2 separate regions of the Homo sapiens genome follow, and region 1 is linked to region 2. Evidence: fine-mapped expression QTL. Tissue or cell type: testis. Region 2 holds a variant in brackets; the other region holds the start of a gene. All regions are shown on one strand. Distances are from middle to middle.

Evidence for each region. PIP is the estimated chance that this variant, and not a neighbour inherited with it, causes the effect.
Region 1: it holds the start of NRG1-IT1, and the variant in region 2 is fine-mapped to the expression of NRG1-IT1 in testis (GTEx, PIP above 0.99).

The regions. Positions count from the first base shown.
Region 1 is chr8:32,021,972-32,030,162 of GRCh38, reverse strand. NRG1-IT1 (NRG1 intronic transcript 1) reads right to left here and starts at 4,427. Exons shown (of 3, transcript NR_104158.1): 1 at 4,399-4,427; 2 at 678-784. It also overlaps a transcript of NRG1 not described here.
Region 2 is chr8:32,135,502-32,143,692 of GRCh38, reverse strand. NRG1-IT1 (NRG1 intronic transcript 1) reads right to left here. Exons shown (of 3, transcript NR_104158.1): 3 at 4,216-4,478. It also overlaps a transcript of NRG1 not described here. Among named protein-coding and RNA genes, the nearest start is that of NRG1-IT1, 110 kb to the right of the region's middle. The variant T/C (reference allele first, on the strand shown) is at 4,454.

The DNA of each region.
Region 1 (8,191 bases), 110 kb after region 2:
TGCACTGTATTTTGAAATGTATCAATGAGTCATAGTATAGACATATATTTATTATTCAAACAGTATAAACTATAATAAGTAATGATGATTGTGAAACCTATTAAATTATTGTAAAAATATTAAGGACTTTCAATATAAATAAGTAGGCAAATAGTTTAATAGTTATAATGAATATAAAGAGAATGTTTTATATAACTTTAAAAAGAAAAATATTTAGAGTCCAGAGATGTTCATTAAATTTTAAAATGATAATACAAAGCTGAATACCAGATATTAGATTATATCAGAATTTTAAAATTTGTGGCTTTTTTTTTTACAAACCAGCATTCATAATTTTAAACATAATTATTATTGAGACAAATTCAATTGTTAAGTATTTAATACGATTCAGGTCATGAGGCTTTCAAAATGTTTCTGCTTAGTAATTCTTCACATAGGTAATGTTAAATCGTATCAGATGTGGGCTTTAGAAACCTCGATATGAGTCCTAAGTAACAAAGTAAAACCTAACTTAGTACTTAAACAATTTGAAAGCTTAAATTAGGAATTTGCCTTTGTAACAAATAGTAAAGTATCAGCCAATCACAGCAGCCTAGCTTCAGTCAATCAACTGTTCAAACCATGTTCAAACAAGGCAAAGGCTGAGCTGTAACCAATCAGCTATCTCTGAATCTCACCTCCAATTTCTGCACCTCATTTCCATTTTCTGTCCATAAAACATTTCGCACCACATTGCAGCCTGGGAGCTCCTCAGAACTGTTTTGGTTCTAATGGCTGCCCGATTCTGGAATTGCAAGTAAAAGCCAATTGAGATCTTTAAATGAAATGTGTTGAAATTTTGTCTTTTTATAATAAGAATATATTAACAATGGCAGAATGTTAACTTTGCAACTCAAAATTTCATTAGTAGGAAAAACCACAAAATTGTGCATAACATTTAAATCATATTTGATCCCCACATAATCCAGAATATGAGAAATGCAAAGAAAAATGTGTTAGAGAAAAATGAGGTACGCAAATAATACTTTGTTTTCTTTAATCAAATTTGAAAGCAACAGACTTTGATAGAATGACTTAGAAGACACTTTCCTAAAGTGTGTTAATGAAGGGGAAGGTTTTAACAAAAACCTTGTTAAAATGACTACCCATAGAGATGAATGCCACTTTCAGGAAGTAATGATATTCTTAAATCAGTATACACAAATTATGAATCCTGCTACAAAATTATTTCTGTTCCAGTAAAAAATATTTACTAAAAAACTTTTTCATCACTCATTTCACTATGAATAGGAAGGTTAGTGATGTTATTAAATGTATCAATTGAAAGTGAGTATCTATTTAATACTGCAAATATCTCATGTTCCCCTTTCCACTGCAGGAAGAATCTAGCAATTTATAATCTTGAAAAAATATTCTTCTTGCAGTTTTTGAATGTCTAACTTTTGAAAGTTAGTGAATGAAATCATTAATTAAAATCTATAGTTATTAATTTTAGCTATTATTCCAAAACTTCAACTTCACCAACCCAATATTTATTTTAGCAAGACATTTAACATTCAGTTATTCAGTACACTACTATAAGATGACCTGAATGTTAATTCCAAATGAAATAAAATAATGCAAAACCCTGAAATGGTCTTGGAAAAATACATAGGCAAAGCTCTTATTATACAGATGAGGAAACTAAGTCCAAAATCAAATACTAAATGGCTGAGCTGATGCCATCATTCAGTTCTTTAATATTTCTGTCCTGCCATTTTAACATTAGGTCACATTCATCCTTACAATCAGAAAATTATTTGAAAAATTCTTATATTTTTCCATTGAACCATAAACCATACATATCAGAAATACCAGTTTAATTCTGAGATGCACAGTCCTAGTCCCCTAAAGTTTGGTCATTAGAAGAAAGAAACCACATTCAGGAATAGTGAGGCCAAAAAAACGGTATGGACACAAGTCCTTTGCGCAATTTTCTTTCCCTAACCATGAGAGCCATGTTCTTAAAGATTTGGGTGAAAATTAATGAATTAGTAATATAAAAATAGTAGTAAAGAAACTGATTATATTTTTAAAATGTTAGACAAACTATAAACTCTAGTTGATTAAGAACCACAATTTAGAAGTCACTGCTCCCTAAAAGTCATGGCAATGAAATAGAGGGAAAAATAAATGAAACTTTACCCAAGCAAGAAAAATGTCCTTTGTTTTTTAAGCCACTGTAATTTGTAGCTTTTCTGTTAGTTTAGTTTAGCTGCTCCTACCCGGAATGAAATAGTGGCTTAAGTCTCTTTGAAGAGAGTGAAGATTCAAGAATACACAGCAAATTTGAGAAATTATTCATTTATAGTATTTCCCAGGGGATTGGACAAAAACCCCTCTCCCATTGCACAGAAAAAATATCTTAGGAGACAGAGAAAAGGCTGCAGAGTATCTAAGACTAGATCCCTGCCTTCATCACCCAGTATTCCCATAGATTACAGACAAACAGATAATCCATGAAAGTAAATTCAGTTCTCAGACTGTATATTAAGTAAAGAAAACAAACAGTATGGTGAGAAGAGAGTCAAGAGGCCACCTACAATATATCCCACCTAACTTGGCATCTTAGGGACACACAAGCATGAGCAAAAAGAAAAGAAAACGCTATGGCAACTATAAAATCCTCCTAGATTAGGGAGGGAGGGAGGGAGGGAAGGAAGGAAGGAAGGAAGGAAGGAAGGAAGGAAGGAAGGAAGGAAGGAAGGAGGGAAGGAAGGAAATTTATAAAAAACATACAGATTTAGCAAATTAAAATATAAAAATAGAGACACCCAGCTCAATTTGAAATTCATATAAGCAACAAATAAATTTTAGCATATACATGTCCTAAATATTCCATGAGACATCTTTATACTAAAAAGAAATATTCATTGTTTGGCAAAATTATCACAAGAAACATAAAAATACTACTCAACCCTACTTGAAACTACCCTACTCACAAACTCATGAACCAACCTACTCAAAACTACTAATTCTAATATAATGTAATATAATAGAGGAATGTAAGTTCACTAAAACAAAATTCAAAGACAAAATAATAGAATAACAGAATTAGATGATAAAGGAGAGTACCGATATAAGGGGGAAAGAACTCAAAACAATAGCCTTATGAAACTAATACATAAATTAGAAAAACAATGGATGCAATTGAAAATTAAGTTACTGATACAGAGAAATGGGGATTAAGATAATTATAGTGAAGGAAGATGAACAGATAAGGAGATAAAAGCAATTAGAGAAAAGTGAATACTTTAAACAAAAAAATCCAACACAATGTTAACAGATATTCCTGAAGTAGAGAATTTAACAAATGAAAATAAATATTTATTCTAAGATCTAATCCAAGAAATTTCCTGAAAAAAAGCTAAGTAAATCTTTAGGTTGAAGGAGCACTCTTTCTAGAAAATGTGGTACAAAACAAACCCTCAATTTCTAGACCTAACTAAGTTAAGCTATTATGTGTTAAGGGTAACTTATTTTTAGGCATCTTGGGACTAAAAAGCCAATCGCCTATACGGTAGAATAACATTAATTTTATTTCAGATTTGTTTTCAGTAAAGTTGACTGCAAGAATAAAATGGAAAATTCTCCACAAATTCAAGGAAAGAAAATGTGAAGGGAGAGTATTATATGCGCCCAAGGCATGATGAAAGTAAAAAAGTAACAAGTAAATATTGTCAAGTAGGAAAATAATTCATAGAAAAAGACCCATGTAAGCCCTTCTTGGGGGAAAAAATAAGCAAAAAACTACTTTACCACAAAATCCAGCCAAAGAGATGAATTCAGCTAAAAATTCAAGAATGGAAAGTAGCCCAAAGACTGAAGAGTTGTGAGCACTGAATCCATTTGATTTTATTACCGGTAGTAGTCAACTGGGAAATGTGGTTACCATAGAGATTGCACAGGCGCCTGTAGTCCCGGCTACTCCGGGGTCTGAGGCAGGAGAATGGCGTGAATCTGGTAGGCGGAGCTTGCAGTGAGTCGAGATCCTGCCGCTGCACTCCAGCCTGGGCGACAGAGCGAGACTCCGTCTCAAAAAAAAAAAAAGAAAAAAAGATTGTATATGCTCTAAACTTAGTAAATGTAAACCTAACTGATAAAACTAATAGAAAGTGAAGCAGGGAAAGAGGACCTGAGACCTGTGGCAATATCTTCACTTTTTTTTTTTTTTTTTTTAGACGGAGTCTCGCTCTCTCGGCCAGGCCGTAATGCAGCGGCGGGATCTCGGCTCACTGCAAGCTCCGCCTCCCGGGTTCACGCCATTCTCCTGCCTCAGCCCCGAGTAGCTGGGACTACAGGCGCCCGCCACCAGGCCCGGCTAATTTTTTGTATTTTTTACTAGAGACGGGATTTCACCTTGTTAGCCAGGATGGTCTCGATCTCCTGACCTCGTGATCCGCCCGCCTCGGCCTCCCAGAGTGCGGGGATTACAGGCGTGAGCCACTGTGCCTCCACTTTTATGAGAGGGAGTCAATTGAGCTTGATAGGTTAAAATAAAAAAAAAAAAAAAAATCGACTTCCATGTTTTTCAAGTTAACTTTGGATCTTTTAGAAAAAGATACGTCTTAAGGTGAAAATAAAACATTTATTTGAGGTCAATAGTTCCTCTAAAAGCAAAATTTCAGTTTTAACCTTCTGTTAAATTAAAATATCAATTATACTATGATCTTACTGTCTGCCTACATCGATGCATGTCTATATATCCATCTATCCATCAGTTCATCCATCTTGCCATTATTTGATCCAGAAATGTACAAAGAAATATATCATAGAATTTTATGTATCTAATGGTAATTGTGAGTCTTTCTCTGTGGTTTGAGACTTTTTTTTTCTTACTAGTTTGATGCATTGTTTTAATTGTTTTTAGCAAAACAACATAATGAGTTTTGCAAAAGAAAAAATGTAAGCAAGCAAAAATGACCAGATGGTAAGTCAGATTAATTCTGAAAAATAGGAATGTAGATTAATTACATTTTAACCTACATATTTCAGCATTTTTAATATTTACAAAGTAAGATGCTCCCTTGATCTCACCAGAGAAATATAAAATGAAAAGTGACAGATCTGTCTCCTCCAACATCCCATTCCCATTCTTCAGAAGTAACCACTGTTAATTGTGTACTCTTCCTTCTAGAAATTTTATTTGTATGTATTAATATATACGTAGACATAGATACAGATATATCTTTTTTATATAATCAGGATCAAACAATTCTCAAATTCTTTCTAAACAGGTTAAAAGACAGTATATAAACTGAATTAATTTGCTTACTGTTCTTTATTTTCTCTATACTTTTGGGATCATTTTCACTCACAGGTTCAATGAAATGGTGGAAAGTTCCTTTTGATCTGTAGGAGATAATACATAATTAAAGAATATTTTACTTCTTATTCTTTTGTGACTGGCTTTCCATTCAGATTTTCAGTTCTTTCTTGATTTCATGTTTCTGAATTTTTGATTCCAGCTTTCTGGCTCCCGCAGGAGTCTCAGAGATGCCAATTTACTATGGTGCTTGGTAAAGATGAAAAATCAAGCTTGAGGTAATTTTTATTTAATAAATCTCCATTGGCTCCAAAGGCTATTTCCCAGCCATCTTCCAAAATATACATAGTGTTATGTAATATTAGTTCCACTCACGATAACTCCATGCCAGAGCACATTAGAACACAGCCAAACACTGTAGCCTTGCTTCCTTCCTCTGCCCTTCCGCTCCCCTTTGCATGCTACGTGGTTTCCCACTCTGTCCACCACTCAAAACTTAGAACTGTAGTTCCAAGGCTTGGGCTCATTTTCATCTGTTTTCTTGAACTCAAAGGCTCACTTTGCAACTTTCCACTCACTTCCCTTTAATACAGCAGTGATGCTCTTACAGTTTTGCAGAGGAACAAAGTATAAGGCTCTAACTCTCCCGATTCAAGACATGTATGTAATGGAAGTTTTCAACTGGAATCAAATTACTGTATTAGGCAGGATCACAGAATGTAACAGGAACTGCCTGAGAAACTGCTTGGAAACTACAGTTTAGGCAGGGCAATGAAGCCCAGGATTGCTCCCAAAAAGGACCTGAAAGACCCATTGATAAGAGGCAGCAGCCAGTGTAACCTCTTGGCCGCATAATGTTAAGTGCTCTCTTCTGCCTCCTGCTAGGAGTTACTTTTCTATGTTTGGGATCCAAACTAACCCAGCGGTATTCCAATGCAAGCAGGGAAACAGGTGAATGTCAAATCAGTGCTGGCTGCAAGGTCACTCTCTCACAGCTCATGTTCTTTTAGGGAGAGTTACTGCAAATCTGCAGCTACGCTCTTCTGCCAGTCCCTATTTGATCGTAATTAAATGAAGCTTGAGAATCCTGCCTCAAGCCTTTTCTTTCTTCCAGAGAAGGCTGAGTGTTGGTTTCTCCACTGCCAGGCATTCTCTCTCCTGGTGTTTTTGAAATCTCAGGACCAATGGGCGTCTGTCTGGGACAAGGCACCACTTCCCTCTCCTTAACCTTTCCCCTCACAATCTGGAAGGACTGGAGCTGCTTCTGATTTTCAGTCCCAGCAGCTGGCCACCAGTGGGTTCACCTCAGCCATTAAAATGCCAAGTTGAGTTTCTGCAGAAAACCTGGTGACGCTTTGGCCTGCAGCTGCAAGTGGAACAGATGAACTGCTAGCCCAATGCAGAGTCGTTCATCATACTTACTTGCAGCTGTTCCCAAGTTCATTCACTTCCTTTCCTGCACATTCCAGGATTTTTCTTTGCGGCACTATAAATCAAGTTTCATTCCACTTTTGTGGAATTTTCACTTTTTGTATTTTAAAGGAAAACTTCGAAACTCAATGTCTTATAACATCCTTCTACTCTTGGCCATTTCTTGAACTGCGTTTCCAGGAAATCAGAACAGTGTGATTCAGAAGGAATTTGAAGGGAAATGTAAGGTAATGTGTGTAAAATTACATTACATAACTAAAATCAGTTAAATGTTCCAAATGCAAGCTCTAATGATTCCCTGAGATGGGGTGCAGGTAAATATCCAAATCACTTGATATACATGATTATGAATTAATTTCCAACACTGAATATATGCACATAAATATGTTGCATATGCATCCGTCTCAGTAGAGTAAAAAATCAGATGATTTATTTTATGGTACAAATATATGATAATCCAAAAGGTTGTGCTGAAACAAATTTTGAAATCTGTGCTCCCGTGCACATTAAATGGTGAGTCTGTTAAATCTCCTTATTGTTGAGTTATAGAGATAATAGCATTTAGCACAGACTCTGTGGTTCAATGATTAAGTGAATTAAAACAAAATGTTCAAATATTGAGGTATTGTGGACTCATTCATTTCATACATGAAATGATTGTACCAGGTACAGTGAAAAAAATATATACAATTATGAGGTCTTGAGCTACAATTATTTTTTATCTAAGGACTAACATTAAACAGGTCCAGTTGATTGTATACGTCATATAAAATGGAGTTGTCAATTAATGTGTCAATAAAATTTCAGATAAACAATGTCCTATTTACTCTGAATAGTTCCCTCTCCCTTGCTGTTAGTAGATTGCATTAGATTTTAGAATAAGTTGCATGTCTTGTAATTTGAATATACTCTAGACCACTTAATAGAGCTCTCTGATACTAGATTTACCTTTAAGTATCAAAATTTCAGCATTACAGGTCTATTTGCATGTGTGGCTCATGTAAAATAAATCATCTGATTTTTTAAGCTTGGCATAGAGGAAGAAATAAAGGCTCTGGTAACATGACTGACAGACTCACTGGAAGCAGTCCCATCTATGTATTAGGCACATTGATTAATAAATACTTTCAAGTGAATTAAATGAAGAGTTAGAAGATTCAGAGAACGCTCTGACTTAAGCAATAAGTCAAGCAAAAAACTCTCTCTTTACCTAATGTCTACCTCTGAAATTCACAGGGACAATTTTACCCTTTGCATAGAGGACTTAAAGCCCATAAATAACAGTCGTGAGATTAAATGCCCTTTAGTATATATGACTAAGAATTTATAAAGGTATAGTTTAAGACCTGATATAACAACAACAACAACAACAAAATACCTGGAAAGTTTCACTTATAAAAGTGCTCAGACCCAAATCTAGAACAATAAATAGAAAAACACCAACCACTTCTGCCT
Region 2 (8,191 bases):
TTAGGTAGGCACCAGGCTCAAGTCCTTGCCCTCACTGCTTCTCACATTTCATCACCCTGTTCTTATGTTGATCCCAGAGAAGTTGCCTGAGAAACGTGCTTGTCCAGCATTTGATGAAGAACATAGTTTATGTCACTGTAATTTATTTCAACTCAATGGGGCACTGAGAGCTGGATACATGTTCAGCTTGGTAGAAACATTGGGGAAGGGCAGTAAACCAACCAAATAAGGTCTCTGCCTCCATGGAGCTCATGGTCTGGGGAAGAACAGACATTTTTTGTACAACTTTTATTATTCTTGCTGTTAGTGCAAGATATTTATGTATAGAATCATCCAGTATCAGGAGATTTCTGGTTCTAATTGACTTTGATTTTTTCATACATTCTATATTATATTATCAGTGAAACATCCAGGAATATTAGCACATGTGAATTATTTCTTCCCCCCCCAAAAAAAAAGCCTTAACACCTTGTACTCTAGACACAGGCCATCTGCTCTGTGATCTGCCCAATCAAGGGCAGTAGCAGGCAAGTCACATGGATCCCACTGTCCCCAAGCTGACAGAGGCTGCAGCTTAGAGGCCTGGTGGACCAACAGTTGACTTCAGCTGCTGACTGACATCTGAAATTCTGCACATCACATAATGGGAAGAAACCTCCGTCTGGAGGCTTTAATGATATGACAAAAGAAGTAACAGGACTTTGGTTTGCCTCACGTTTACCACACTAAGACCTTTCTTAAAGTGTACATACAACTTTGTTTTCTGAAGACGAAGGCAGACATAAGTATACCTTTAGAAACCTAATCCATATTCTAACACGTATTCTTTTCACTGGACTCTATCTTTAAAAAAATACATGCCTGACATAATTCTGTATTTGTACCTATGTATTAGCACTATTTTTAAAACATTTATTTCTTTGTCAGAGACCAAATTCTCACAATGTCATTGGTCTAATGAATCATTTGTAAGTTCAAGGGAACAAATCCCAAAGCTGGATTTTCCTTTTGCTCTGTGCTTCAATCCTGTGTATAAGAAAAAAGAATTGTTGAGTGGTTCTCAATAGCATTTGAGCTTCTGGCCCCTTCCAATTTGCTAGGCAGATTTTCTCCATACCAGTAGCTGGCATACCTCAGCTAGAAAACACAATTTCTCCTGACTAAACAATATGTTTAGAAACCTAATGCTTGTAGATTTGGCCTATTGGTGGTCTTCAAAGTTTGATTACACATGAAAGAAGGAATAATCACGCCGAATATTGATTTTCCAAAGCAATGCTCTGTCATGCTCTTCAGGGAGATCATATAGCATAGGAAGTCTAAAAATCAGCATAGCAAAGTTATTAACACTCACACTAACAAGCACAGTCAACTATCTCTGCAATCTGTGACTGGAAATAGTGAAAAAGCAGGATTATGTATACACACATACAAATTACTTTCACCATCCTCAGGCAAGGGTCATTTGGACTTTCAACATGCTGAGATGAGCTGACTGAAGAGACCCACCAGATACCCATCCCTCTATCAGTTCAAAAAATGTCCAGGGTCAGGCAGAATGAGACTCCTGGGGTTTTAGGGTAGGCAAGCTATAAGCGTCTTTACATTAAATTTTGTTTTCATGCAGTGCAAATAGACACTAATAGCTGGTTCGAGCCCTTGCCCAGGAAACTGATGGAGAAGAACAGCCACTTTCAGGGATAGCAACAGAGTCCAAAGGCTTCCCACGGAGCTGAAGATTACTAGCAAAACTCCTGCAGTGGGAACTTTCCTGAACAGCTTTACAGCATCAGGAAAATTAGGCATGGAAAGCAAGCAGACATCCTTTATCTTCAAACTGGAAAAGCAATGAGTTCTATTAGTCGGAGTTATAAAAGTTTCTTATTGTTTATTGTGCAGTACCCCTTGAGCTGAGCAAGATTTTGGCACAAGTCTCTGTGGAACGAATGTGTATGCTGATCTTTAGCCAGAAGAGTTGTCAATTTTTCAAATGTTATTCAGATATTAGTGAAAAGTTGTGAATATTTTGGATGCATGGAGAGATATCTCTCCATGCATCATTCATATATATATATATATATATATATATATATATATATACCCACACACATAGGATATGTATATATACATATATAAAGTATATATATACACACACACACACACACACACACTTAACTATCTCACATCTGACAAATGCCACATTTGTAGACATCAAAAAGGGATGCAAAATGTTTCCCTGGCCAAAATTTCATTTCAGAAACGAAAGACGAGAAACATGGCTTATGTCTCTATAAGGTATTAGCAGTTCTTTATTAGGAATACTAACTAACCTACTAATATTTCTCTAGTGAATTCTATACTGCCAAAGAGTTAGTGGCAAATCTGCATTGAGCCCAAATTCCTCTGTTATATACAATGACTACTTTATCGCCCCTTAGCAAGCTTGTTGCTGCCCTGGTACCACATTCCTTGGTCATGTCCTGAAACAGCCCACTGACCTCAAATCCCTCTTTTATTCATTTACCAGACAATCCACTACTACATATTTTTTATTCCTATATGAAGTTTCCTAAGAATTAGATGAGAAGGAAAATACACATTTCCTGTTTTGAGAGAGTTTAGGATACTAATAAGATTTCTCATAAGTACCAAATACCAGAATAAAATAATTGACAGAGAAAAAGAGAGAGACAGAAACAGAGAGAGACACAGAGACAGAGAGAGAGAGAGTGAGCGAGAGAGAGAGAGAGAGAAGGTGCATAAACTTAAGGGCTCAAAGGTCAACAGTACAAATCAGAATGTAAGTTCTAACAAAGTGCAGAGAAAGGATAAGAGGAAATGAAATGCTCTGGAGAAGTCAATGGAGGTGGAGGTTGTCACCCTGAGTTGTGACTTAAAGTACTTGATTAGTTAGAAAAGAAGAGAGAAACCAGGTACATGGGTGGCTCATGTCTGTAATCCCTGCACTTTTGGAGGCTGAAGTGGGAAGATCACTTGAGCCCAGGAGTTCAAGACCAGCTTGGGCAGCATAGCAAGACCCAGTCTCTACAAAAAAATGAAGAAATTAGCCAGATGTGGTGGCACATGCCTGTAGTCCCAGCTACTCAGTAGGCTGAGGAAGGATGATCACTTGACCCAGGAGCTTGAGACTGCATTGAGTTGTCATTATGCCACTGCACTCCAGGATGGGCAACAGAGTGAGGTCTTTTCTCAGAAAAAAAAAAAAGAAAGAAAGAAGAAAAGCATTTCAGCAGGTGGGGAAGACAAGAGCAACAAAGAGAAACCAAGAATGACAGGAAGACAGGAAGACTATCTACCTGACTGAAAGGGAGAATTTATATTATCGAGCAGAAAAACTAAGGTTGGATAGGCAGGAAGGATTCAAATTGTCATAGGTTTTGAGTATCAGTTTAGTTTCTGCATTAAAAAAAAATGATACACCACTGCTTAATGACATTGCAGACATTAAAGAGATGTGCAAGTATGGCTGACAGAAATGCATCATCATGAAGGACTGCCCTGACCTTCAGCATTGTGGCTACAAACTCCAGCACCGTGGTATTCAAGCAATTCCTTTCTAGAGTGAGGGACTAGACATAAATGGCCATAGCTGCTGGGTCCCTAAGGCACCTCTCATCAGTTAGGTCAATGTGCCAGGCAGGGGAAGAAGCCTTACTATTCCACTGCATCTGTGGCCTTGAAACTCATAGCTCCTGAATCCTCAAGTCTCTGAGGCAATGCATTCCAGCTACAGATAAATACCTTAAGCAGTCACCTCAGGCAGGGCTAATTAGGAACCTCTTTCAGAAGCTACTTTGTATCCCCAAAGTCAGCTACATGGGTCTTATTGCCAACAATTTATCATGCATTGTCTACATGGTATAAACATGCATTCTCAACTTGCTATTTATGAATCTTACCTTTTTATTTTATTTCATTGATTTTGGAGTACAGGTTGTTTTCGGTTACGTGGGTAAGTCCTTTAGTGGTGGCTTCTGAGACTTTAGTGCATCCATCACCCAAGCATTGAATCTTACCCTTTCAAAGCTAAAGGTACACGTGTGTATACTTCTTAAAAAGCAAATGCACATGTTAATATGCCTGCTATAAGTGGCCTCTACATTTTAAATGCATGCCTCAAATATTTCTATTATTTGTCTATATGTAACAGTGATATTTCTTTTCAACACATATTACTTTTTCAGAGATCAAAGGTTCCTAATATCTCATTTTATTTTATGGTAATTTATGACTGGTCAAGTAAAACCAGGCTCCTTTTCAACTTTTGTTTCATGACTGTGCAAGGAGAAGGGATGGCTAGGCGGTTCTCGCTCCCATTCCATTCTTTGTCAGTTACCAGGTCCTTAAGCAGATCTTCTCCCCCAGGTGTTTGCCTTCTGAAGGGGAGAAATGGCGGTCAAAGGACTTTCCTCAAAGAGACAGTTGCACTTGA[T/C]CTTGAATAAAGACTGAAATTTCATCTGGCAAAAAAAGGACATAGAAGAAGAAAGATTTCATACCAAGGCACTGAATTAGAGGACAAGGCTGTGATCTAGAAAACTTGACTCTGCATGTATCTGGGTACTCAGTCAAAGGCGCATGGAAGAAGATATGGTCAGAATGGTTGCTTGAGGTCAAAATATTAAGGATTATTTTATGCCATGCTAAAAACAAACAATTTAGTCATTCATTCACTCACTGTTGATTGACTGATTGATTGACTGATTGATTTCTCTTTTGAAAAAGTGCCTGCCTGAGGTTTAAGGGAGGAAATCAAAAAGCCAAAATTAGGTCTGATCATATTGCATTAAAAATTGCTGTGAGCTTGCTGGGCATGGTGGCTCATGCCTATAATCCTAGGGAGGCCGAGGTGGGTGGATCACTTGAGGTCAGGAGTTCAAAAACATTGAAAACAGCCTGGCCAATATGGTGAAACCCTGTTTCTACTAAAAAAAATACAAGAAAGTTAGCTGCGCTTGGTGGTGGGCGCCTATAAACTCAGCTACTTGGGAGGCTGAGGCAGAATAATTGCTTGAACCTGGGAAGCTGAGGTTGCAGTGAGCCAAGACTGCACCACTGCGCACTCCAGTCTGGGCGACAGAGTGAGACCCTGTCTCAAAAAAAAAGAAATCGCTGTGAGCCTCCTGCCAGTCACAGCCTAGGAGCTTGCGTGTGCTCTGAGCCAGCAGAATTGTGCATACCAATGTGTCCTGGTTACCATTTCCAGCTCTAAGAAGGGGGAATGCTGTCTTCTGATTGGCAGCATGTCTTTGACATGAAATCCTAAAACTTGTGTTTTGGGAGAAAAATGCTTTGTTTGTATTCCCCTGCTTGAAGGACCCCATGCTGAGCTTTAGATGTTTGCCTTCCTTGGGTGTTGGGCTTAAATGCAGATCCTCATAGAGAGCACAGACATTCTGTCCGCAGTGAAACAATGATATATTCTATTTATTGCACTGGTACATCGCCCCTGATGTTTAAATCCACTCACTATTGTCCTCACTGACGCTGTGTAGCTGCTGTTAGTGTTTGCCAAATCAGCAGATGTGATTGCTAAATATGTAGAGATGAGATGCAAGGAACAGGCAGTAAGAGGGCTTTAAAGGGGTTCTCTACTCTTCCTCTCTTCTCCAACAAGGACACCTAACATTCTTCCACCATATGAAAATCCTCTATTGTCTACTCCAAGACGCTTCAACATCAAAAGGATCCCAGCAGACACAGGATATATTTTAGGTGACTTGCAAATTTAAGAAAACTTAAATCTTAATACAATCTTAATACAAAGCTGCTTTTGGCAGAAGAACTACATATACAATATACACTTAGGAAAGAGTGAGAGAGGATTCACCCAGAATTGAATCAATACTGACTGGCCTGCAGCAGCGCATAGACTCTCAGAAGGGAGGAAAAACAATTTCCTGAAACCCAAATAGAGAGAAATCAACCACATCTCGAGGGATGAGGATGGCTGGCTGTGTGCATCAGGGGTTATCAAGGAAAGCGGAGGTGGAGAAGAGGAGGTATAAACCTAGAACCAGAGACTGGATTTGCACATGGCTCTCCTTTTATGTACCCAACTGTCTATAGAAGAAGCAGATCGTCAAATACTTGGAATCTCACGACACTTGACATATGCATGCAATTGTGCACACACAGAGAGAAAATATCATCTACATTAAATTGCTTTATAGAAAAATATATACTTAACTGCTCCAGATGGCTAATGTCTTTTATTTTATTTTTTTTCTTTTGAGATGGGGTCTCACTCTGTCTCCCAGGCTAGAGTACAGTGGTGCAATCTCGGCTCATTGCAACCTTGGCCTCTCGGGTTCAAGCAATTCTCCTGCCTCAACCTCCCAAGTAGCTAGGACTACAGGCATGCACCACCAGGCCTAATTTTTGTATTTTTAGTAGAGACAGGGTTTCGCCATGTTGGCCAGGCTGGTCTTGAACTCGTGACCTCAAATGATCCACCCGCCTCGGCCTCCCAAAGTGCTGGGACTACAGGCATGAGCCACCATGCCAGGCCATAATGTCTTTATATTATACAAGAAGACACTGGTGACTCAGCGGTAAAGGAGCTTCCTACAATTAAATTAAAAATTCATCATAGAAATCATGTTTTAAAAAAAACCCCCATGTTTATTGATTCACAATCGAATAAACCAGATATAGAGTATATGCCTCTGTAAAATGTAATTACCTCCTTATATACCCTGAAAGTATATAATGTATTCAGAACTAGTTTCATTAATTAAGTGTTGTTGATCGTCTGTGCTTAGCCAAGTACTATTAATATTAAGGTGTTATATAAGGCCCAATTCTTTAATATGAATTATGACATCTAAGCATAAGAATATAGACTTTGGTTGTGACAAATGATTGAGGAAAGTATTCATCATTTTAGAACCTCTTAGAAATATCTAAATATGCGGGCTTACCTATCGGCACTTTACCCCACAACGTTCAAACACTGGTCTTCCTGGATTTGCACACTCCATTAGTGGGGTGCCATTGTCAGTGAAGAAAGAAGACATATGATCATGTGTTAAGGCATTCTTATTAAATATCTAAGGCATAAACCCATCTACCTGTACCATGCTTGCATCAAACCAACTGAATATCGGTACAGAAAGATATGCCACCACAACAACAGAGCTCAAGTAGACCATCACAATGGCCTACTATCTGTGAAGAGTAGTGAAGGATCTGAGATTTTAGCCTATCCTGTTTTCAAAGTTCACCTGCCACTGTTTCATGGATGCTAGCAGGGGACATGAGACTTTGGGTCAGAGACCACGGACTTTATGACAATAGCAGTGGTTGAAGTGTTTGCATTTGTGTAGGTTCTCTGGGCCCCACTCCTCACAGGGTGATATGAAAAGGGCCAGGTGACAACAGTACCTGCAAGAGGTTTGTATTATAGGAGAGGAACCATGCGCTTAAGGAATCTGAATATTTTATAATGGGCAGTAAGCTCTGTTGATCTTTGCCTCAGTGGGAGGCATTATCTTCATTATCCTGAACAGCAACTGAACCTGCCTTTGCTCTGGAACAGGCCACTGTATCTTCCAACTCCTGAACCAAGAGAGTTAGTGACTCTGATCGTAAGATGAGCAAAAATGCAAAGGGCACCTAGAGAATGATCTCCCTACACCACCCTCATCTGCACTGTGTTTGATTCCTCACCTTCCTAAATGACTGTCAACCTTCTCTTTTTCAAAACATCTCAACAATCACTCCCGCATGGCTGTTTGGTTTTCTTCTACTTTGCTTTTGATCCTTTAGAGTTTCTTTTGATTTCTTTTTTATGCTCACCTGTAAATGTAAGAGTACCCCTGGGCTCTGTCCTTCTCTTTCATATCTATAAGTACTATTTAGGTGATTTCATATAGACCCTTAGCTCTAAATACTAGCTGTGTGTTACAGGCTCACAAAATTGCATCCATGTCCTAATTTCTCCCATGAACCAAAAACTTGTCCAACAAATTGCCCACTTGAAATTTCTTCTCAGATACTCAGAAGATATCTCAAAAAAATGTAAACATGGCTAAAAAATAACAAGTAATCTTGCCTCCTGATACTCCCCTTCTCTCAATCTCACCCATCTTAGTAAATGCCAGCCTCTACTTAGTTGCTCAGGTTGGAACCTTTGGAATTATCCTTTAATTCTGTATTTCCTTTGTGCCCA